7 linked regions of the Homo sapiens genome follow. The protein of the gene in region 3 purifies or fractionates together with the protein of the main gene of each other region. This does not show direct contact. Each region holds a gene or a part of one and is shown on either strand. Other genes may lie near its edges. The genes, in order: SERPINB5, DHX16, AP3M1, PHF6, FERMT2, CCDC9 and LCP1.

Evidence for each region.
Region 1: the proteins of AP3M1 (region 3) and SERPINB5 purify together in Homo sapiens (co-immunoprecipitation; one large-scale study listed by IntAct). This does not show direct contact.
Region 2: the proteins of AP3M1 (region 3) and DHX16 purify together in Homo sapiens (affinity purification with mass spectrometry; one large-scale study listed by BioGRID and IntAct). This does not show direct contact.
Region 4: the proteins of AP3M1 (region 3) and PHF6 purify together in Homo sapiens (affinity purification with mass spectrometry; one large-scale study listed by BioGRID and IntAct). This does not show direct contact.
Region 5: the proteins of AP3M1 (region 3) and FERMT2 purify together in Homo sapiens (affinity purification with mass spectrometry; 2 studies listed by BioGRID and IntAct, with this or other methods). This does not show direct contact.
Region 6: the proteins of AP3M1 (region 3) and CCDC9 purify together in Homo sapiens (affinity purification with mass spectrometry; one large-scale study listed by BioGRID and IntAct). This does not show direct contact.
Region 7: the proteins of AP3M1 (region 3) and LCP1 purify together in Homo sapiens (co-immunoprecipitation; one large-scale study listed by IntAct). This does not show direct contact.

The regions. Positions count from the first base shown.
Region 1 is NC_000018.10:63,497,458-63,500,957, reverse strand, and holds part of SERPINB5 (serpin B5), read right to left. Parts: exon of another isoform or gene 3,455-3,500; intron 1,839-3,454; coding exon 1,671-1,838; intron 1-1,670. UniProt on the Homo sapiens protein: Tumor suppressor. It blocks the growth, invasion, and metastatic properties of mammary tumors.
Region 2 is NC_000006.12:30,652,627-30,656,006, reverse strand, and holds the end of DHX16 (pre-mRNA-splicing factor ATP-dependent RNA helicase DHX16), read left to right. Parts: intron 1-409; coding exon 410-572; intron 573-670; coding exon 671-832; intron 833-1,127; coding exon 1,128-1,301; intron 1,302-2,636; coding exon 2,637-2,765; 3' UTR 2,766-2,880; downstream 2,881-3,380. Other genes in the region: uncharacterized protein C6orf136, read right to left, coding at 3,092-3,205, 3,290-3,359. UniProt on the Homo sapiens protein: Required for pre-mRNA splicing as a component of the spliceosome. Contributes to pre-mRNA splicing after spliceosome formation and prior to the first transesterification reaction.
Region 3 is NC_000010.11:74,133,829-74,137,328, forward strand, and holds part of AP3M1 (AP-3 complex subunit mu-1), read right to left. Parts: intron 2,976-3,500; coding exon 2,804-2,975; intron 337-2,803; coding exon 199-336; intron 1-198. UniProt on the Homo sapiens protein: Part of the AP-3 complex, an adaptor-related complex which is not clathrin-associated. The complex is associated with the Golgi region as well as more peripheral structures.
Region 4 is NC_000023.11:134,393,812-134,397,311, forward strand, and holds part of PHF6 (PHD finger protein 6), read left to right. Parts: intron 1-97; coding exon 98-141; intron 142-3,500.
Region 5 is NC_000014.9:52,878,051-52,881,550, forward strand, and holds part of FERMT2 (fermitin family homolog 2), read right to left. Parts: intron 3,420-3,500; coding exon 3,194-3,419; intron 3,089-3,193; coding exon 2,986-3,088; intron 640-2,985; coding exon 532-639; intron 1-531. UniProt on the Homo sapiens protein: Scaffolding protein that enhances integrin activation mediated by TLN1 and/or TLN2, but activates integrins only weakly by itself. Binds to membranes enriched in phosphoinositides.
Region 6 is NC_000019.10:47,266,525-47,269,488, reverse strand, and holds part of CCDC9 (coiled-coil domain-containing protein 9), read right to left. Parts: intron 2,879-2,964; coding exon 2,697-2,878; intron 1-2,696. UniProt on the Homo sapiens protein: Probable component of the exon junction complex (EJC), a multiprotein complex that associates immediately upstream of the exon-exon junction on mRNAs and serves as a positional landmark for the intron exon structure of genes and directs post-transcriptional processes in the cytoplasm such as mRNA export, nonsense-mediated mRNA decay (NMD) or translation.
Region 7 is NC_000013.11:46,125,423-46,127,800, forward strand, and holds the end of LCP1 (plastin-2), read right to left. Parts: intron 2,302-2,378; coding exon 2,169-2,301; 3' UTR 501-2,168; downstream 1-500.

The sequences.
Region 1 (3,500 bases), on a different chromosome or scaffold from region 3:
CAAGACAGCTGGATAATGGCTGAAAGATCAAAGCATAAAATGGAAAGAAAAAAAACAGAGAGAGTAATGCACCAAAGAAGAAGAAGGACAGGAATTATAATTCAGTTAATAAAGTGGTGGCTAAAACATAATGGCAACCAAAGGAGCAAGCTGGAGACTGGATGGTCCCCTGGAAAGTCAGCAAATCACTGAGGCCCATGTGGATATATAGCAAGTGATCCAGGCCTTCAAAGAGCCCCTTCTTCCTTCCTGGCCAAGGGTTGAGGCCAGGCGGGGTGGAGCTAGAATGGAAGCCAGGGAGGGACTAAAGGGAGAACAGGCCTCAGCCAGCTAAGCAGAGGTGAGGGAGCAGAGAGGAAGCTAAAACTCCATTCACCTGCAGAGAAAACTGCTACTCTTATTTAAACTTTGTGCCTTAAAAATCTATATAAATAAAATAATATAATAACCCTTATCATATAAAATAAAATACTTATATATAATGTGTACTATAAAATAGTATCTGCATAATTCAAAATTTTGAAGCATATATGTGTACGTATTAAAATCTCATAAATGTACAACACAAAGAGTGAACCGTAACGTAAATTGTGAAGGCCAGGTGTGGTGGCTCATGCCTATAATCCTAGCACTTCAGGAGGCTGAGGCTGAGGATTGCTTGAGGCCAGGATTTCAAGACCAGCCTGGACAACACAGTGAGATCCCACCTTTACAAAAAAAAAAAAAGCCAGGCATAGTGCTGTGTGCCTTTAGTCCCAGCTACTTGGGAGGCTGAGGCAGGAGGATCACTTGAGCCCAGGAGTTTGAGGTTAGAGTGAGCTACCATCATGCCACTGCACTCCAGCCTGCCCAGGAGTTTGAGGTTAGAGTGAGCTACCATCATGCCACTGCACTCCAGCCTGGGCAATGGAGCAAGACCCTGTCTCTAAAACAATAATAATAATAATAATAATAATAATAGTAATATGTCAGTATTGGCTCATCAATTGTAACAAACATACCAAACTAATGCAAGATGCTAATAACAGGTGAAACTGTAGGCCTGGGACGGGAAGGGGAGTATATGGGAACTCCTTGTACTTTCTGCTTATTTTTCTGTAGGCATAGATCTACTCTAAAAATAACATCTACTAATTTTAAAAAAAAAGAAAGAGCAAGAGAGAGGATGCTTGACATCAGGTCACATGATAGTGGACCTGGCAGTGCGTAGCAACGTAGTGCCTTAACTGCCTAGGAGGTGAGGGAGACACTCTAGCCTTCAGTTAAGAACCTGGCTCCAACTACCTGGGCCCAAATCCTGATCCTGCACACACCCTTGACTAATTATGTAACCAGTTACCCACCCCTCTGTGCCTCAGCTCCCTCACTGGTAAACAAGAGTGTGGTAACAGTCTCTAACTCATCAGCCTGCTGTAAGAATTAAATGAGATAATGCACGTAGGCAACTTAGCACAGTCCCTAGAACACTGTAAGTGCCAAATAAATTTTGGCTGTTGTTAATATTAAGGAGGAAAGGCCCCAGAAAGAACCATGGGTCCTTGGAGGTGACTGAGCCAGTGGCAATAAGGGAGGGCTACCGGCCCAGCTCTCACGGCCCACACAGACCTGTTGGCACAACTCTTTGCCAAGGCAGGGGGTGCCTTTGTGGAGAGCACCTGCCTTCTCCTTACCTTCTCCAAGCCTGTGGACTCATCCTCCACATCCTTGGGTAGTAGGATGAACATGCTGAGATGCTTATTTTGAAAAGGAAGCTCTATGATCTTACAATTGATACTGTCAATGTTTCCCATACAGAACGTGGCCTCCATGTTCATCATCTGCACTGGTTTGGTGTCTGTCTGTAAAAGGGAAAATTTGGACTGCTTACTTTTCAATTTACACATGCATAAATATATATATATATATATATACACACACGCGCGCACACACACACACATATATACCCACATGTATATATACAGACACACATACATATATACCTACACCTATATATATACAGATACACATACATATATACATACACCTATATATACACATATACATATATATGCATACATACATATACATACATATACATATACACACACCTATATATACACACTTATATATACATACTATATATATATACCCCATACATATATACACACATGCACATATATACACATATATAGGCAAACACATAAATATATATGTACATATATATATATACACAAATTTGCTCTTGACACAGTGTCAGATTATTATGGCTTATAATTCATCATCCACTCAGATCCAAACTGTATTGCACTGAAACCAGAGACTGTCCTGTGAAGAGTTTGTGTTCCTTTGAAAAGTTATTCATATACTTTATAATCTACATGTTACACATTACATGAAGTATATATAATACTGTATTTGCATAGATCAAACCTTAAAAATAAGACTGTATGGCTGTAAATATAGGCAACGTTTGTTATTCTTTACAGATGCCTATGAGATCTTTAAACTATTCCTGGTGGAGCTGACTTGAAAGTAAATTCTACTGCAAACCCACATAACCATTTATACGGCTTTTCCTAATAAAATGCCTAATTTCAAAAACTGGCTGGGCACGGTGCCTCATGCCTGTAATCCTGCACCTTGGGAGACCACTTGAGGTCAGGAGTTCAAGACCAGCCTGGCCAACATGGTGAAACCTTGTCTCTACTAAAAAATACAAAAGTCAGCCAGGCATGGTGGCACACGCCTGTAATCTCAGCTTCTTGGGAAACTGAGGGAGGAGAATTGCTTGAGCCTGGGAGCCAGAAGTTGGTGTGAGCCAAGATCATACCACTGCACTCACTCCAGCCTGGGCAACAGAGCGAGACTCCATCTCAAAACAAAACAGAACAATAACAACAACAAACTTAGCACATAGCAGAACAAAACAATATTTGTTGTGACCTCTCTGTTTGTCTTTGGTTTGAATTGCCCACTCCCCACTGTACTGCCACCTACTCAGATCTGAGCTAATTAACAAAGTCTAAATTGAAGATAAGAACCTTGGTTTTTAGTCCCAAATGTGACATAAACAGATTCTGTGGCCTTGAGCAAATCACTCAATCTCTCCAGGCCTCAGTATTCTTGTCAGTAGAATGAAGAAATTGTAAATTCAGAATAATGGTTACCACTGGGGAGGAAGAAAGAGGAACAGGACAGTGGAGTGAGCAGTGAAGGGATACATACAAAGCAATGCAACTGTTGTTATATTTTTTCTTTAAAATATCTGAAATAATTAAGGCAAAATATTAAGTTCAAAAAGATGATTGATCGGTATATGGGTGTTCGTTTTATTATTCTCTATCATTTTCTGAATGCTTGGAGTATTGCATAATTTTTAAAAAGGAAAATGTTCTTTAAAATTATCTCTAAGTCTTTTTAAAATTATCTCTAAGTCCCTTTGAGCTCCACTGTATGCTTGGCTCTTTTTTTTTTTTTTTCAGAAACGTTGTGTTCAATGGTAAAGCTTAGCACAGCCCAGC
Region 2 (3,380 bases), on a different chromosome or scaffold from region 3:
CTGCGCCCGGCCCCTTGAGGAACTTACTTGTTCCTAAGGTTTCCAACTAGAACATTTAGATGTAGCTGTGGAGGGATGACCTTTAAATGCCATTCCTCTGCTGTCAGAGATCTTTTCCAAATGCACATAGTGAATGCACACTTTCTGCAGAAGCCTCAGAATTCCCCGGTGTTTCCTGCTCCTGCCTCCATGGATGTCCCTCCTTTGTGACTGTGTTTCATCTATGGCCCCTACTTCCTTGACCCCCAAGCTGCTGCCAGAATCTATCTGCTGGCTGCTTTGTAGCCATTATGCCAACCAGCCTTCCCCACATGAGGAAACATCCATCACACAGTGATCACTCCCCACTCCACCATATCTGTTCCTATGTGTCTTGCTTTGAACTCATGCTTTCCCCTTCCTGTCCCAGGTACAGCTGTTCAGAGGAGATCCTGACAGTGGCTGCCATGCTCTCTGTCAACAACTCCATCTTCTACCGACCAAAGGACAAGGTCGTCCATGCTGACAATGCCCGTGTCAACTTCTTTCTCCCTGGCGGTGACCACCTGGTTCTGCTAAATGTTTACACACAGGTCACTGGGCTTGGGTGAGTGGGAATGAGAGACACTGGGGGACTTTAGTCCTGCTGTATACTTAATTATCTCTCCTTTCTTTTTAACTGTCTTCCCAGTGGGCTGAGAGTGGTTACTCTTCCCAGTGGTGCTATGAGAACTTTGTACAGTTCAGATCGATGCGCCGAGCCCGGGATGTGCGGGAACAGCTGGAAGGGCTCTTGGAACGTGTGGAAGTTGGTCTCAGTTCCTGCCAGGGGGACTATATCCGTGTACGCAAGGTCAGCATTTCTTCAGCCTCCTGCTTTCCACCCCCAGTACCTTCCCAGGAGCAAGCTTCTCTGGGGGCATGCAGCATTTCCTCCAGCGTGAGAGCATGCCCTCTTCCCCTTGTGTATGACGTGTCCTCCCAGGGCCCTTTCTTCCCCAGACCACTGAAGGTTCATTCCTGGGAAGTTCTTCATGCATTCCTTACCTCTCTAGTTTTCCTGAAGCCTGAACTAAAAAGGTAGTGCATTCTTAGGGTCCCCAGATGTCTGCCTTTTCCATTGATTTTCTTTCCTGCCCGCTCCTTAGGCCATCACTGCTGGTTACTTTTACCACACGGCACGGTTGACTCGGAGTGGCTACCGCACAGTGAAACAGCAGCAGACAGTCTTCATTCATCCCAACTCCTCCCTCTTTGAGCAACAGCCACGCTGGCTGCTCTACCACGAACTTGTCTTGACCACCAAAGAGTTCATGAGACAGGTGAGGAGAACATCCTGTGCCCACGCAGGTGGAGACTATGTAGAGAGATGGTGTCCTGGCAAGCTAAGAACCCAGGTTCAAGTTGCTGGGACTGGTACAGAAAGAGGAAGGTAGGGTAAAATAGAAAGACATCCTTTGTTTTTTTTTGTTTTTTTTGAGACGGAGTCTCACTCTGTTGTCCAGGCTGGAGTGCAGTGGCGCAATCTAGCCTCACTGCAACCTCTGCCTCTGGGGTTCAAGAGATTCTCATGCCTCAGCCTCCCAAGTAGCTGAGATTACAGGCGCAAGCCTCCAGGCCTGGCTAATTTTTGTTATTTTTAGTAGAGATGAGGTTTCACCATGTTGGCCAGGCTGGTCTCAAATGCCTGCCTCGGCCTCCCAAAGTGCAGGGATTACAGGTGTGAGCCACCATGCCCAGCCCAAAGACATCCTTTCTAACAGGTGTGTCAGCATCTTCCAAGATCTGAGAACTAGACACTTATTCAATAAATATTTGAATGGCTACTGTATAGGTGCTGGGGCTATAATGAACAAAGCAGTCTCTGGTCTCACAGAGTATAGTCTTTATGTTCTAGGCTTTTCTTTTTTTTGAGAGTTCCGTGCTGTTGTAGCCCAGGCTGGAGTGCAGTGGCACCATCTCAGCTCATGCAACCTCCGCCTTCGGTTTCAAGTGATTCCCCTGCCTCAGCCTCCAGTGTAGCTGGGATTACAGGTGCCCACCACCACGCCCAGCTAATTTTATATTTTTAGTAGAGACTGGGTTTCACCATGTTGGCCAGGCTGATCTCGAACTCCTGACCTCATGATCCGCCTGCCACGGCCTCCCAAAGTGTTGGGATTACAGGTGTGAGCCACTGTGCCTGGCATGTTGTTCTAGACTTTTCTTGGGAATAGCTTATTTGGTATCTTGAATAACATACAGAGGTGTATCTGCCCTTTGGGTATATAATAATAGAGCCAGGCACCTTTACACCTAGCCCTGCAGTCAAAGAGGAAAGATAACTTTTGACCATACACATAAGGATCTAGGTTGGGGCTGGGCATAGTGGCTCATTTTTGTAAACCATCCCAGCACTTTGGGAGGCCAAGATCAGCCCAGGCAACATAGTGAGACCCCAACTATACAAAAAATTAATGGTGCACTGTGATGTGTGCCTGTAGTCTCAGCTACTTGGGAGGCTGAGGCAGTAGGACTGCTTTGAGCCATGATACGCCACTGCAGTCCAGCCTGGGCAATAGAGCAAGACTCTGTTTCAATTTAAGAAAAAAAAATAACAACAACAAAAGATCTATGTTGGAAAGAAGGGAACTCCATTGATCTTTTCTCTCTCCTAGGTACTGGAGATTGAGAGCAGTTGGCTTCTGGAGGTGGCTCCCCATTATTATAAGGCCAAGGAGCTAGAAGATCCCCATGCTAAGAAAATGCCCAAAAAAATAGGCAAAACACGAGAAGAGCTAGGGTAAGAGAAGGACGTAAACAGAACCTGACACCAGCTCCTTTTCCTTCTATACATTATTTAATACCTATTAAATAAAATTATTTTTGGAATAAAGCTTGTGGGAACATTTGGGATCTAGAGAAAGTGATATGTGAAATTCTATCTCATATAGTCAGTTAAACTTTATTATTTACAAGTTAAATTACACAGCAGCTTTACACAGCATGAGATGGAAAGGAAGGAAGGAGAGAAACGAGGAGAGGAAGCTGGCTCCTGAGATTCTTGGCTGCCTCCACCTCCTTCTCTTGGGCGTAGCAGTCTTCAGTGCTGCCTCCACTCCAAGGTCAAGGATCAGGGCTTGGAACACAGGTTTAAGTCAGGTTCTGGCTCTGACAGCCCCAGGGCCACCAGGGCTCCCACTAGCAGCTTCTTCACAGGCGTTGGAGGTGAGTGTGAAGGCATCAGCTGCAGGGAGAAAGGTTAATGCCAGTTGGGGGAGGCACACAAATGTTCTACCCTTTACCCCACCCAGCCCTACCTAGGACTCACTTTATCTAGACGATGGCGACAAATGAGGCCACTGGAATTCAGGTAGAAAGTGGAGTAGGCATCATAGGTCCTGGGGAATAGAGGGAGGCTT
Region 3 (3,500 bases):
TATCTTTAGTAGAGACAGAGTTTCACCATGTTGGCCAGGCTGGTCTCGAACTCTGACCTCATGTTCCGCCTGCCTTGGCCTCCCAAAGGGCTGGGATTACAGGCGTGAGCCACCGCGCCCGGCCAGGACTTCAGTTTTCTATTCATCTGTGTCAGATGAATTGTTTTTCCCCAAATAAGATGACATGCACACAATTACCTGATTTATCTATAATTGCGTCTATTTCTTCAACAACATCAAAATAGGCTTCATTGTTTGTGTACTTTACCCCTGCCCGACGCCATGGTATGTTGGACAGCTGCCCGGTGGGGAGTGTGTCCCCAACATTACTACTGCCTAGAAACCAAAAAAGGAGAAGGCAAAGCTGATGTATAAAACAGTCATGAGAAAATTTATTACTAGGAAAAAAAAAGCTGCTTCTTCAATGTTTGGATTTTTCTTAATGAAGTTGTGGATGGTCACTAGAATTGTCAGACATATCCATACCAACATGATCAAATTTCTAGAAAAGAAATATAGGCCATGTGGCCCTCTGTCTACCTGCCAAACCAGGTTAAATTTATTTACTTATCTTTTGCCTCCTGTGTGTTAACAGTAATCTAATCTAATTCCAGTGGCTCAACAACAGAATCTCTGCCACTGATGAAAAAAGAGGTTGGTTGTTTCAAAACCTTCTGCCAATAAAATGTCTCCAGTGAGAATACAGAGTTATAACTAGGCCCTTCAGTATTCAACTTTATTTTACATGAGATGCTGCCAAGCACGCCTCAGTGGAGTAAATGGAATCTGGCCTTTTCCTATTTTAAGGTCAGCATACCCATACGGCTGCAATATAGCTAGTATTCAGTATCCAGCTCATTTCCTGGTAAACTGACACATGCCTAAAAATAAGTCTGGTTGTCCAAAACACATATCTTTGAGCTGTGACTTACTTAATATTTTGGTTAATTTATATTTCCCATTCGAAAGTACTACATACTTAACAACAACAAAAAGGTAGAGTTCAGAGAAGTGGTTTAAAGAAAAACACCTGTCTTCTTACTAACAAAATATATCTACCATTAACATTTTTGTTAATATTATGGTATTAACATTTTAATATAATATTAACATTTTGGTATATTTCTTTGAATATTTCCACCACCAGAAGGTTGCATTTTTTTCTATTTTGATAATTTTGGTTTTTAATTGCACTTTAAAATATAGTCGCAATCATACTGTATCTACAATTTTGCAGTCTACTTATGATTGGTGTTCCTACCTGCAACCTATAATCATGTTATCTTCCTGCTCAAAAACGTTCAATGTTTGCTCACTGGCTTTATGATAAAAGCTAAATATTTATCCTAGCTTTGAAGGACTTTCTCTACTTTTTAATTTGATCTCTAACTTCTCAAGTGAAAAACAGTTCTGCTTCTGCTAAAGGGATTAATAAAACTTTAGGTTTTTCTCTTTCATGTGTGTTTTTTTCTCATACAGTTCCACCATGGAGAATGCTCTTATTCCTTCCTCACTTCCTGAATTCTACTGATTTTCCAAGGTGGCCACCCACCACAGTTCAGGAGGGATTACTTCATTAATGGAACCATTCTCTTGAACTTTGTAATACACTATCTAATGAATCTGTTATGTTTTGCATTATATATTTTAGTAACTTTTCTCTGACTATAAAATACATGTTTATTTTGGAAAATTAGAAAGTATAAAGCAAAAATAAATATAATCTGTATTTAGCTGGGTATAATCATTGTAAATACTTTTTTGTCGGAGTGAATATTTATATATAAGAATAATTTTTTTCAGTTTTGTGCTGACTTTTCAATTTAACGTTACATCATGTGTATTTATTTTCCAATGCTATTACTTTATCTGTGAAGTATGGAATTGCTTTTTAAAGTCTTATACAGTTATTTACTTAATTTTTTTTCCAATGTCCCATTCAGAGTATAAGTTTTAGGAGTACAGACACACCATCTTATCTTTCTTTGAATTTCTCCTAACATTCGTCCTTACACAAAGGATGAATAAAGAGCTGCTGAATGATCTTTTTCTTATAGGCCTCTCTCACCTCATTTTTAGGTCAAGGCACTGGACAGGGGTTTACAATGGTTGACAGTGGAGTTGGAGTGGCATATAACATTTCATAGGAATCTTTGTCTAAAAGACTTTAATGCTTTCGAAAGAATATTGGTATCTGGATGTGCCTAATTTCTAGCTACACTCAAGAATTAAACCCAGCTGGAAGCTTACAACACAAGTACAGGCCCACAATGCATGAGATCTCATAAGTAAACTATTTCCTATTTTTTCTTAATACATCTTCTGAATGCATAAAAACAAAGACTTGGAGGAGATTGTAGTACTGTGTGGTTAAGCGTCTTAAATTTTCTATTCTCTAGTAATTGTGGAGTAGCAGCATACCAGTTATGTAATGCTATTTTAAATATTAAAATGCCAGTCTATAAATGGACTAAATTCTCTTCTAAGTGGGCTCATATACTGGCTTCTTTAGGAATAACTGGAACAATTTATTCAGTCTTAGTATTTAGTGTTAAATAATGGTAATAATATTGTTGTGGTGTTTTAGAAAAAAAAAAAGAGTAATAACCAAAAGTTCTTTATCACTTAAGGTCTAGCCTCTTTCCATGAAAATAAATATATAGTACATCCATTTTAACTTTACCAGTAACTTTAATTATGGCCAAATTGTACTACCTTAATAATATGTCAGATCATGAGCAATAATGAGTTGTTTACAAAGTTTTAATTGCTCAGTTACTAGCACAGTATGTTTTCATCTTACCTGTAATAGAGTTGACAACAGAGCGTAGAATTGTTGGTGGTTTAATCAATTCTTTCAAAATGTTAGATTCGGTAGCCAGTGGAAATCCATTGTCTAACATTTCTTCTAAGAGTTCATATACTATGACCACATTATCCTTAATTGCAGCCTCTGAACACTCACCAAAGTAGTCCTGACAAAATACACACAAAATATCACACAATGGAAGGCAAAAAGAAAGGCCTGCTAAATACTTTTTGTTCTGAAGAATAAACTTAGAGTAGCATAATTCATTGCTTAAGCTGCTGAACATATATAAAACAGAGCGGGGGAAAAAACCCTCTATAGTCCGGGCATGGTGGCCCATGCCTGTAATCCCAGCAATTTGGGAGGCTGAGGCGGATGCATCACTTGAGGTCAGGAATTCAAGACCAGCCTGGCCAACATGGTGAAACCCTGTCTCTACTAAAAATACAAAAATTAGCTGAGTGTGATGGTGCACACCTGTGGTCCCAGCTACTTGGGAGGCTGAGGCGGGAGGATTGCTTGAACCCGGGAGGCGGAGGTTGCGGTGAGCCAAGATCATGCTACTGCACTCCAGCCTAGGGAACAGAGTGAGACTCCGTCTCAAACAAAACAAAACAAAACAAAACAAAACAAGCAAACAAAAAAAACCCCTCTATAGTCCTAATATTATTCCTCAATATTTTCTTGATAT
Region 4 (3,500 bases), on a different chromosome or scaffold from region 3:
TAGTGAATTGGGTGAAGTGTACTGCTCGTTTTCTTAATTTGAAAAGTGAGTTTAATTTAGTTTGCTTACTAATTTTTGATTTCTTCATTTTTTATAGGGTCTATTGCCGAAAACACAAGAAAACTGCACATAACTCCGAAGGTACATCATTTAGCCACGTTTCAGCCACTTTTCAGTTTCAAGAAGAAATTTGAGTACAGATTAGTGAATTATACTATATTAATTTTAACCATAAGACATATCTCAACATTCAGTACATTTAGAAGAATTGAGAAAAGTGTTAGGATAAACTAATGTGCATAGTGAAAAAGATCTGAACTTCTTTTTTTTTTTTTTTCCTGAAACGAAGTCTTGCTCTGTCGCCCAGGCTGGAGTACAGTGGTGTGATCACAGCTTACTGCAACCTCTACCTTTCAGGTTCGAGCAATTTTCCTGCCTCAGCCTCCTGAGTAGCTGGGATTACAGACGTGCACTGCAATGCCCAGCTAATTTTTGTATTTTTAATAGAGATGGGGTTTCACTGTGTTGGCCAGGCTGGTCTTGAACTCTTGACCTCGTGATCCACCTGCCTCAGCCTCCCAAAGTGCTGGGATTACAGGCGTGAGCCATCGTGCCCGACCAAGATCTGAACTTTTAAGAAAACTTTTACCCCAAAGTCCTTGTAAAGTATATGCTGAAAATCTATCTTTAGTAAGAAATTATGCTGGTGGCTGCGTGTTTCATTTCTTTGTGTTTTTTTTTTTTTGTGAGACAGAGTCTCGCTGTGTTGCCCAGGCTGGAGTGCAGTGGCGTGATCTTGGCTCACTGCAAGCTCCGCCTCCCGGGTTCACATCATTCTCTGCCTCAGCCTCCCGAGTAGCTGGGACTACAGGTGCCCGCCACCACGCCTGGCTAATTTTTTGTATTTTTAGTAGAGATGGGGTTTCACCGTGTTAGCCAGGATGGTCTTGATCTCTTGACCTCGTGATCCGCCTGCCTTGGCCTCCCAAAGTGCTGGGATTACAGGCGTGAGCCACTGCGCCCGGCCTCGTTTCTTTTCTGTTTTCTTTTTCTTTTTTTTTTTTGAGACGGAATCTCGCTCTGTTGCCCAGAGTGCAGTGGCACAATCTCGGCTCACTGCAACCTCTGCCTCCTGGGTTCAAGCGATTCTCCTGCCTCGGCCTCCTGAGTAGCTGGGATTACAAGCACCCGCCACTACGCTTGGCTAATTTTTGTATGTTTAGTAGAGACGGGATTTCACCATGTTGGCCAGGCTGGTCTGGAACTCCTGACCTCAGGTGATCCACTCACCTCGGCCTCCCAAAGTGCTGGGATTACAGGCGTGAGCCACTGTGCTCGGCCAGCTGCGTGTTTCTTTAAGGATGATAAATGGGATCCTTGATACTGTCATATTATAAATGATGTGAGCTTGGTAATAGTAGTACATTTTGTGATCACCAGGCTTTCTGTTATATTTTTATTCACATCTGTAGTACTTTAAAAAATGCCAATGTGTTAATAAGTAACCAAATTTAAAATACAAACTTTAAAAATTATTTAATAGTTTGTTTCTACTTAAATTTATATAAAACCAGGTTAGTCATGTTTATATATAGTTAGCCAAGTTGAACTTGGTCTGTAAAAAGTATGCGAAAACTCTGATACTGAGTTCTGACTTGTTTCAAACCTTTTCAAACAGATGGTTTTGATACTTTTACTAGCAATATAAAATGGCTTAGATGTAATCTGCGATTGTTCTATCCCTTCATTTAGATTAGAGATCTTTAAAATTTTTGTTCGCTTTTGAGAATATGTTGCTTAGAATTATAATGGTTTGAGCACTGTTGTTTTAGGAAGCTGTTTCTTTTATGAAGATTTACCTAATTATTGGTATTCGCATGTTAAAATTGGTGGCCCTTTTTGATCTCTAGATCTTGGCTTTTATAATACAAAACAATATAGTTTCCACTTCTGGACTCGAGATTAGTCCAGATACTTTAAAGTGTTGGTTAAAAATACAGTCGTTAGCAAAATCTAGTCTTTAAGGTAAACATGCTGGATAAATAATAATTTTTTTGAGGTGATAAAATATGACGGAAAAAACCTTAGTAGTGCTTTTCTTCTGTTTTCTCCTCACTGAATTCTAGAATTGAATTGGAAAATCCTTTGTGAAAGATTGAGTACGCTTTTCCACCTTCCATTATTTCAGATTTTAACAGTGCATTTATTTCATTCTCTTTAAGACTGTAGTGGCCCTATATGGTTTTTTTCTTAATCTATTTTTAATTTTTGTGAGTACAGAGTAGGTGTGTATTTATGGGGTACATGAGATATTTTGATACAGGCACACAATGTGAAATAAGTACATCATGGAGAATGGGGTATCCATCCCTATTTCAAACAATCCAAGTTAAGCTGAGGATTGAGACTATGTTATGCTGTATGTTAAGCTGAGAATTGAGACTCATGATCTGATGAATACAAGTATGAGCACACTGAGACAGGATATTTGAGATAATTAAGAAGGATGATTAATATATACTGATTATGTAGATAGCTCCCATTTTATTCCCTGGATTTCTGAAGCTGACAGTACCATCTAGTGGTAGGGAGAAGTCACTGCAAACTATATAAAGTAGAATAATTTTGGCCATGTTTTAGCACTGTGACACTTAATAGAGATCTAAATTCATACTTTTCAAGACAACTTTTCTTTTACTGTAACTGGCAGCATTATTATAACTTCAGATTTGTGCTACAATTAATTTGAATTTGGGATTCGATGTGTACGTCTATAGAACAATGGGCGGGGGGCTTGTATCATTTTTATATATAGTGTGTTTATACTCATTGTGGACCTTGAAAGAATAATTTTATAATTTAAAGTATTAAAGCTTTATATTTATTGATTTCTGGCTTTTATCACATTGATCTAGCTCAAATTTAGTTGATTTTGAGTGCTTTGTCAGAAACAGAACTTCCAATTATTCCATTGTTCTAATGGGAAACATATGTTCTCCTTTACGATCATGGTTTATGATGGGAGGTTATAGGATTGTATTTCAGGGACTGTCTTTTAAGAATTGTACTGCACTAAAAAAAAAAAAAAAAGAATTGTACTGCACTAGTCTCCAGAACAAAGATGAATTAATATCTATGGTAATGTCTTGGTCATTTGCCATCTGTGGCTCAATACTTACTTTGCTAATACTTAATATGATAAATGCTATTAATATATAATTCATTCTGCCATGTTAGCTTTATATAAAATGAGCTGTTTTGAAATATTAAATTTGAGAATAATTGCATAATATAGCAATTCAATTTTCCCATCACAAATAAAATATTATTGAATATTAAATACCTAAAACCTATGTCATCAGTTTTGCTTCAGGAAAAAATGGACTGTGAATTTGAAAAGCAATTTTAAAAATCTATATGGAGTTTATAACTATCATTATGTCACTAGGTTATTAGAATGCCCGTCCCAGGAACTGTATGTATTTACCTGTTAGTGGTGA
Region 5 (3,500 bases), on a different chromosome or scaffold from region 3:
TGGTTTAATCTAAGGACAATGTTAGCTATCTACTTAAGGATTATCATTGTAGAAAAAGGTTTGGTTCCACTAGTCTCTCTAAATCTTATCACCTAAAAGCATCGCTTTGCTACAGCCCATTTTATAGTGTGTTGTATCATCCCTGGCTATTTATGAAATTATACAGGTAAGCTTCAGATTAGATTTCAGAAATCTGATTTTTAATAAATATTTTCTTTCCAAGGAAAAACTGAGGAGCTTTGAGCAGATTTATATTTGGGGGTGAGAGGATAATTTTTTTCCTACAAAATAGGATAATTTTTTTCCTACAAAATAGAGAAAAGTACTTAAGTATACCACTGAACTCTTGGAAAAGATAAAAAATCAAACTAAAATGTATTTGTTTTGCTTTCCTAAGTGTCTACTCACTTTCTTCATGGCAAAAATTCTGTCTCGTGAAATGTTACTGGAATTACTATTCCACTTTACTGTTTAAAAATACCTCCCTACCCTTTACCGGAATAAGTCCCATTTACTAGACCTTTCAACTACCTGCAGGGCTGCAAACATCATCATTTCTTCTTCTGTGCATTCAATCTCTTCCAGGAGAATGGCCCATTTGGCCTGCTCGTAAAGCTGATTGATTCTGATTGCATCATACTGCAACAAGAGAAATAGTTCTTTTGTAATATATAACCTTTACCATTGAAAAATTTCAAACTCTGAATATTCAATTGACAAGAAAAATTTAATGCTTTTTTTCCTGGGATCTTAATTTACAAGCAAGAATTTTTATTTACAATCAAGTATTATTAGAAGGATACCTATGGGGTCAGACATGCCTATATATGCCCACATCTAATTTTCCATTAAAAATGACATTAAAATATGACAGAGAATAATTGATTGTACAGTATTAAAAAGTAGATTCTGTATGTTATTTTTCAGGGAAATAACCACTAGACATTATAGCCTTTAACATAAGAAATCTAATTTGATGACATTAAAGTAAGGCGGAACTACCGATTATTTTTCAGTGTTATTACTGCAACTTGCCATACAAACATGTAATCAGAAAGCAAATTATTCTGGGGAACATTTTGTTCACTGTGGAGAAGCATACCCAGATAAAGTGGCAAGTCCTTGGAAACGGCAGTTATTTTAAGTATGCAAAATACAGGGCAAATATACTTGTGGAAAATGTTTACTTATATGTTATTCAATTATCCATTTAATTATATAAATAAAAGTCAATAGTAATGCCTTAAGAATACTGCAGATTGAGTATCCCTTATCCAGAATGCTTGAGACCTTCTGTGTTGAATTTAGAATTTTTATAGATGATGGAATATTCCATTATACCAGTTGAGTGTCCCTAACATAAAAATCCAAAATGAGCATATCCTTTCAGCATCATGTCAGCCCTCAAAAGTCTTAGCTTTTGGAGCATTCTACATTTTCAAATTAGGAATGCTCAACATGTATTTTAGAACGTTGACAAAATACATCTCCATTCCCCTCACAAATGTAACTATTCCCAAAGTAGCTTTGGCTTTACTAAAAGTAGGTATGATGTGGCCTGAAAATGAATTAAAATTATTTTCTATAATTTTATTATAGAGATTTTACTGTTGTATAAAGAATTACTTAAGCATATAATAAAAGAATGTAAACATAACATTAAAATCTAGACTATACTCTAAACATGAAAAGGATGAGAGGGTAGCCAAGAGAGGTTTCTTTCCCCAGGCTGAAAGAGAAGTAAAAGATTCAAACCTCTGTGCCAAGTGTTTTCTACGGGGGAAAAAAGCTCCAGATATTTATGGTAAAGTTAAATCTTACCAGAAAAGTGAAGTACTATGGTAGCAGAGATAATACCAATCATAGTAAAGACAAGTAACAGTGTTTGTCTGTTACAGAGGAAAAAAATGTAGACCTAAGAAAAATTTGGCTGAGCATGGTGGCTCAGGCCGGTAATCCCAGCACTTTGGGAGGCTGAGGCAGGAGGATGGCTTCAGCCCAGGAGTTTTGAGACCAGCTTGGGTGAAATAGTGAGACTCTGTCTCTACAGAAAATAAGAAAGCCAGGTGTGGCTGGGTGAGCCTGTAGTCCCAGCTACTTGGGAGGCGACGTGGGAGAATGGCTTGAGTCCAGGACTTTGAGGTTACAGTGAGCCATGATCATACCACTGCATTCCAGCCTGGAGGACAGAGTGAGACCCTGTCTCAAGAAAAAAACGTTTTTTTGAAGCAACATCTTTTGGCACGTAATTAGTAATCTAAAAGTAATTGAAAAGGTAACCTTTTTGAAACTTTTATTTAAATATAGTTGAAGAGAGGTCTTATATTTTAAAAATGAACTTTGCCAATTCTTTTTTTTGTTTGTTTGAGATGGAGTCTTGCCCTGTTGCCCAGGCCGGAATGCAGTGGCATGATCTCGGCTCACTGCAAGCTCCGTCTTCCAGGTTCAAGTGATTCTCCTGCCTCAGCCTTCCAAGTAGCTGGCATTACCAGCGTGTGCCACCATGCGTGGCTAGTTTTTGTATTTTTAGTAGAGACGGGGTTTCACCATGTTGGCCAGGCTGGTCTTGAATTCCTGACCATGTGATCCGCCCACCTTGGGTTCTCAAAGTGCTGAGATTACAGGCGTTGAGCCACTGCACCCGGCCTAAACTTTGCCAGTTCTATAGTACCAAAAGAGTACCTTTAAAATACAAATCATGACACTCTAAGAGCTTAGAGATTAAAAAAAAGATAAAACCAAATCAGCCAAAAGTTTCATTATCTTAATAACAACAATAAAAAGGTTTAGTTATGCTTCCAACCTACTAAAATAGACTTATTTAAAATACAAATACCTTTGCCTAAAAGTTTGGGTTTTTAATAATTATTCAAGATTTCCTATATACAAATAATTCCTTATTCCACCGACTTCCAAAAACAAACATCCATGTGAACAAAACAAATTAATGGGGAAAAAAAAAAGATCCCTTTAAACCCTCGGTACCTTTGGATTCAAATCAAAAAAGCTGTAATACTTGAATCGGAGCAGCAAGGCCTCATTTTCCTTCACATCTTGTTCCATGAGAGATCTTGAGGAATCAAGCCATCTGGACAAATTAAGAACAGTGGAACAAAACAACACAGAATGAAGACAATATTTCTACCTCTAGCTGGATGAAGAAATTCAATTTTATCTATATCTTAAAACTTACCCTTGGTTGATTTTTGCTTTATCAAGAAGAGCTTGAGGCTTGAACATTTTTGCCAAGATTTCTGGTGACGTGATTGGTTGACTGACAGCAAGTATACCAGGATTGCCTTCTGACAAAGCACTGTCACCAAACCAAGCAGAAGTTGGTGACAAGGGGCTTCCATCATGAGCATCATAAGTGGGGGTCATTGTTTTACTATACAGTCCTGGGCTTGAATATATACTTCCTAATAAGTAACATGAAAAACAGGTAGTAAGTATGCAGTACAGCATCTTATTTTTCAATAATAACACATATTATGATATAA
Region 6 (2,964 bases), on a different chromosome or scaffold from region 3:
ATCTCAGCTACTCGGGAGGCTGAATCAGAATTATTTGAACCCAGGAGGCGATGTTGCAGTGAGCTGAAATCACACCACTGCACTCTAGCCTGGGCAACACAGCAAGACTCAGTCTCAAAAAAACAAAAAAAAAAAGATAATATTATTACACAGATTATCTAAGTCTAAAATTCTAACCTCCACCCTGGCTGCTTACTCTGCATCATTATCCTTCTGGGCCTAACATTAGACCTCTTAATTACCCACCTTGCCCACTACACTCTTAGTTCCAAAAAGGCAGAAATGTTTTGTTTGCTGCTGTATCACCTAGAACCTTCCATGACATAGAGGAGGACTCAAATATATGCTGATGAAAGCAAGACACCATGCATTTTTTTTTCTTAGAGATAGGGTCTTGCTCTGTGGTCCAGGCTGGAGTGCAGTGGCATCATAACAGCTCACTGCAAACCTCCTGGGTTCAAGCAGTCCTCCAGCCTTGGCCTCCTAAAGTGCTGGGATTGTGGGGATTACAAGCATGAGCCACCACGCCTGGCCCAGACACACATTATTATTATTATTATTATTATTTTTTGAAACGGAGTCTCTCTCTGTCGCCCAGGCTGGAATGCAGTGGTGAGATCTCGGCTCACTGCAAGCTCCACCTCCCAGGTTCACACCATTCTCCTGCCTCAGCCTCCCGAGTAGCTGGGACTACAGGGCGCCCACCACCACACCCGGCTAATTTTTTGTATTTTTAGTAGAGACGGGGTTTCACCGTGTTAGCCAGGATGGTTTTGATCTCCTGACCTCGTGATCCACCTGCCTCAGCCTCCCAAAGTGCTGGGATTACAGACGTGAGCCACTGCACCCGGCCCACACAAACATTATTCATCAGACTTGTTGCAAACTGCTTTTAGGACACATAAGAAAAACAAATACTTTCTCATTGTGAATGCTGAGAACATCTCCCCAAAAGCCCAGCTGCCTCCTCCTTAGGAAGATCAGCTATAGTATCTGTGCAAATTATTTCTCACACTCGCACAGGCTTGGTTCACAATCCACAACAAAATGCTTCCCGACCACTGGGCAAACAGACAAAATCCTCCTTAGCCAAAGCCAAAAAACAAGTTATAGGTGAATGAAAACTTTCAACACAGGAAAGAATGGGGGATGAGGTAAAACCTAAAGTTGCTGATCTTTAAATACTGCTATTTATCGGCTCTTCCAGAACCTTCTCCTTCTTGGTTATGGAAGTTGGTCCCCATGACGATGATGCAATGAGGGCTTTGCTTTAAGTCTGACTGAATCGGGGGACAAAGTCAAACTTGAGGTTAACAATGCCACTGGGTTAAGAAGGTGGTGGTGCCGGGCGCGGTGGCTCACACCTGTAATCTCAGCACTTTGGGAGGCTGAGGTGGGTGAATCATGAGGTCAGGAGTTCAAGACCAGCCAGGCCAACATGGTGAAACCCCACCTCTACTAAAATTACAAAAAATTAGCTGGATGTGGTGGCACGTGCCTGTAATCCCAGCTACTCAGGAGGCTGAGGCAGGAAAATCGCTTGAACCCAGGAGGCGGAGGTTGCAGTGAGCCGAGATCACATCACTGCACTCCAGCCCCGGCAACAGTGCGAGACTCCGTCTCAAAAAAAAAGTAAAAAAAAAAAGGTGACGGTGAGGCATGGAGACATTCAGGGATCTGAGTTGCTGGGGACAGGTCAGAGGCTGGCAGGAGGATGCAAAGGTCTAATCGCTGTTAAACAGCCTTCATGCCCTCCCTGCGTTGGAACTGATGTCCCTGCCGCCACCGGTGTTCCTATCCACTGGAGGGGGCAGAGCTTATTTCCCCGCCCCAGTGAGGCGGGGTGTGCTGGCGAACACAACTGGGAAGTGTGCCTGCTTGTGCATCTGCCCATGTCAGGGCAAGCGCTCCCCAGGCAGCTGCTGCCCTCAGCCTGGACAGCAGAATGAACACCCTGGCGCAGAGTGAATTCACCCTGCTGCAAGAAGCCAAGCCCAGCGGGACCCACAGCTTAGCGTCCAGCCTGGATCAGCTCAGCCCAGCATACCCATGAACACAGAAGAAATCCTCTCACCCCAGCTGCTCAGGAGGCGGAGGCAGGAGAATTGCTTGAACACGGGAGGCGGAGGTTGCAGTGAGCTGAGATCCTCCCACTGCACTCCATCCAGCCTGGGCGACAGAGCTAGACTCTGTCTCCAAAAACAAAAAGAAAACCAGAAATGCTCGGCCGCGCGCGGTGGCTCACGCCTGTAATCTCAGCACTTTGGGAGGCCAAGGCAGGCAGATCACAAGGACAGGAGATTGAGACCATCCTGGCTAACACGGTGAAACCCTGTCTCTACTAAAAATACAAAAAATTAGTTGGACGTGGTGGCGGACGCCTGTAGTCCCAGCTATTCGGGAGGCTGAGGCAGGAGAGTGGTGTGAACCTGGGAGGCGGAGCTTGCGGTGAGCCGAGATCACGCCACTGCACTCCAGCCTGGGCGACAGAGCGAGACTCCGTCTCAAAAAAAAAAAAGAAAACCAGAAATGCTCTCACGTGCCGCTGAGCTCCAGCAGCTGGTCCATGGCATCTCAGGATACTTGGCAGTCACTCACTCATACACAGCAGGAAAAACCAGAGAGAGGCATAGGACTTAGAAGTCAGGGCCAAGGTCAACGTGCCACATGGGGAGAGGAGCGGGGAGGAGACTCACATCCCATCGGTCTTCTCGGCATCCCACTCGCGCCTCCACTGGCCAGTGGGCTTGCGGTGCCTCTGCAGCCGCTCCTGGTCGATCTTCTCCCTCTCCTGCTTCCAGCGCAGGTACTCCGACCGCTCCCGGCCCGTCATGGACAACGTCATGTCTCCAGCACTGCCCAGGCCAGCTCGGCGGCCCTGCCCCCCAGCCCACAGGGAGTCAGGGTGATGTCCCGCACCCTACCCCGCCCCTAAGCCCCGAGGCACATCCACTTGCTCAGGAT
Region 7 (2,378 bases), on a different chromosome or scaffold from region 3:
CTCCCATGTCATGTAAAACTTTGATGAAAGAAATATGTTACCCTTTTCTCTTGTTACCCATCTTTTGTCATAGTATTGGCCGTGACTCTTATGATAGGTGAGGAAAGGTATCACACCTCTTCACTCCTACAAGTTCAGTGTATTTCTGAGTTTGGCTCTCAGCTTTAATTTTATTCCCTGCTTTGCCTAACGGAAATTTATTCTTCAGTTTTTAGCTAAACTATTTCTCCTCAGACTGTTTCCTGTCATAAACTCATGTCTCACCCTGCCCTTCTTTTTATCACTCGTCACATCTGTTATTTTAATTGTTTAACTTCCGTCTTTCCTAAGACAGGCATCAGCTGAGCACAGTGCCTGTTTAGTTCATAGGCACATTCCTAAAACCTTGCACTGTGCCTTGCACATACTAGGCACTCGAACGTGTTGGAGGAATGAATGAATGAACGATTTATAGCACACTGTCAGCAAACTTTCAAAATGAAACATCCAGAGACACCTAATATAGGGAACATTTTATTTGGAAAGATTTTGAGCATCATTCTCTTTTCATTTTTTATTAAGGCAGTAACATTCTTTCTTCCTGGAGGCGGAGGGGGGAAATCATCTGAGGCTACAGTAAGTTCAATCTGAAGTCAAAACCAACCAATTTGTATTCAGAAGCAGCAAAAATACTGGTTATGGGCTGGGAGGAGCCACATGTTGGCTTTCTGAGTCCACTGCCAAGGAACAGATCCAGAGCAATGCATTTCAATTGCTTTGAAAAATGGCTAAGTTCCATTACATACCACCACTAAAGAAGATACCTCATTGATGGAGCTTTTCACCATGATAGAGGGCGTCTTGCATTGGTTCACAATGGCCTGTTGCTTTTTAGCCTTCAGTTGGTTTAGGGGGAAATTGCTCAACCTATGAGACCTGCTCAAATTCATACTGTTCTGGTTTTGCTTTGGAATTCTTTGTCCAGTAAATTAGCTCTTCATAACGCAGTTCCACCATTTCTTATCCAGCATAGATTCATTCTGCCCTTGACAGCTGGCTAGGTGTGTGTGTATGTGAGTAGGGGTGCTATTGATTGGCACATATTGTCCCCCCTGGAGTTTAGGGGTGGCAGAAAGCTTTTATAGTACCAAAAAAGTAAACATTGATAATATGGCCTGACAACAATCAGATATGCTAAGCTCTAGAAGCAAAAGCAAGGTAGGATTGCCTCCAAATGTTGACAGGTATTAGCCATACCACAGTAACTAGATCTAATGTGAGGGCTAAATGCCTGGAGAGGCAGAACCCTAAAGGATGCTTAGTTATAGCTCCATGCTGCCGCCGAGTGGCTTGATGCTCCATTACACCCTCCTTGGATCCAACCTTCCATTAAGGCTGAAGGCTCTAGAGGGCAGAGTATTCAAGATGTTAGATCTGGTCCAAGCCCAAATTCTAGAGTTAAAAGCAGAGGGGTTCTTAGTGGCTGAAAAAAAACAAAACCTGATGACATTTGGGACTCCAGTTTTGAGGAAAGGCTCTGATGATGAGGCTTACTTCTGCAGGCTACCAGAGACTCCTGAGACTTCAACAGCTTGACTGATTTATCACACACTCCAAGTGGCCCAGAGACAAGGACGGCCAGAAGAGATGGGCCCCCCCGGAAGGCATGGTTCCAAAAGTGTGAGGAGCAAAGTCAAGGGAGGCAGGGTAGGAAGAGGGGACAGAAAGAGGGGCTTGCAACAGATCAAATGCTGACCTCCAGGAACAGGGTTTAGGGCAGGTGTGATGTTTCCCCTCCTGGCCCTCATCTTGAACAAAGAAAAGGGAAGCCACATGAAGCTGGTTTGAAAGATTATATCAAAATTAATACCACTGCAGCTTCTATCCTTGGCTAATGGCAAAAGCGAGAAGGGTACCTGGAAAATAACTTCTTTCTTTTCCTCTAGATTTTCGAAGAAGCAAATAAATCAAGAATAGAAACCTATATATAGGAGGTTGGGCCTCCTGCAAAGAATGAAGCACTTTTTGTTAAATACAGGAGAGGCTACTTGGCTGCACTAATATGTGCTTTTTGGAATCTTATAGAGTGTCACCAAGTTGAACTTTGGAATGGCTTGAATCATCCCTGGAGCATCTGTGCCGGGCAGTCAGGAGTGAGTGCACCGCCTCCCACCCAGCCCCATTGGGCCTCACACCCTCTTCATTCCTTTCCCCATGAGGCAGGCAAACACGGTCATGACCATTTTGGGGTTCACTTCAACCAGGTCTTCTGGCAGGGCATACACTCTTGCTCCAATTTTTCGGGCCATAGAGATGGCATATCTAAAAGGGAGAAAAGAGGAAAAATAAGGAGAGCCTGAGAAACACAACACGAATGGGACCCTGGAGGGTCACAGTCA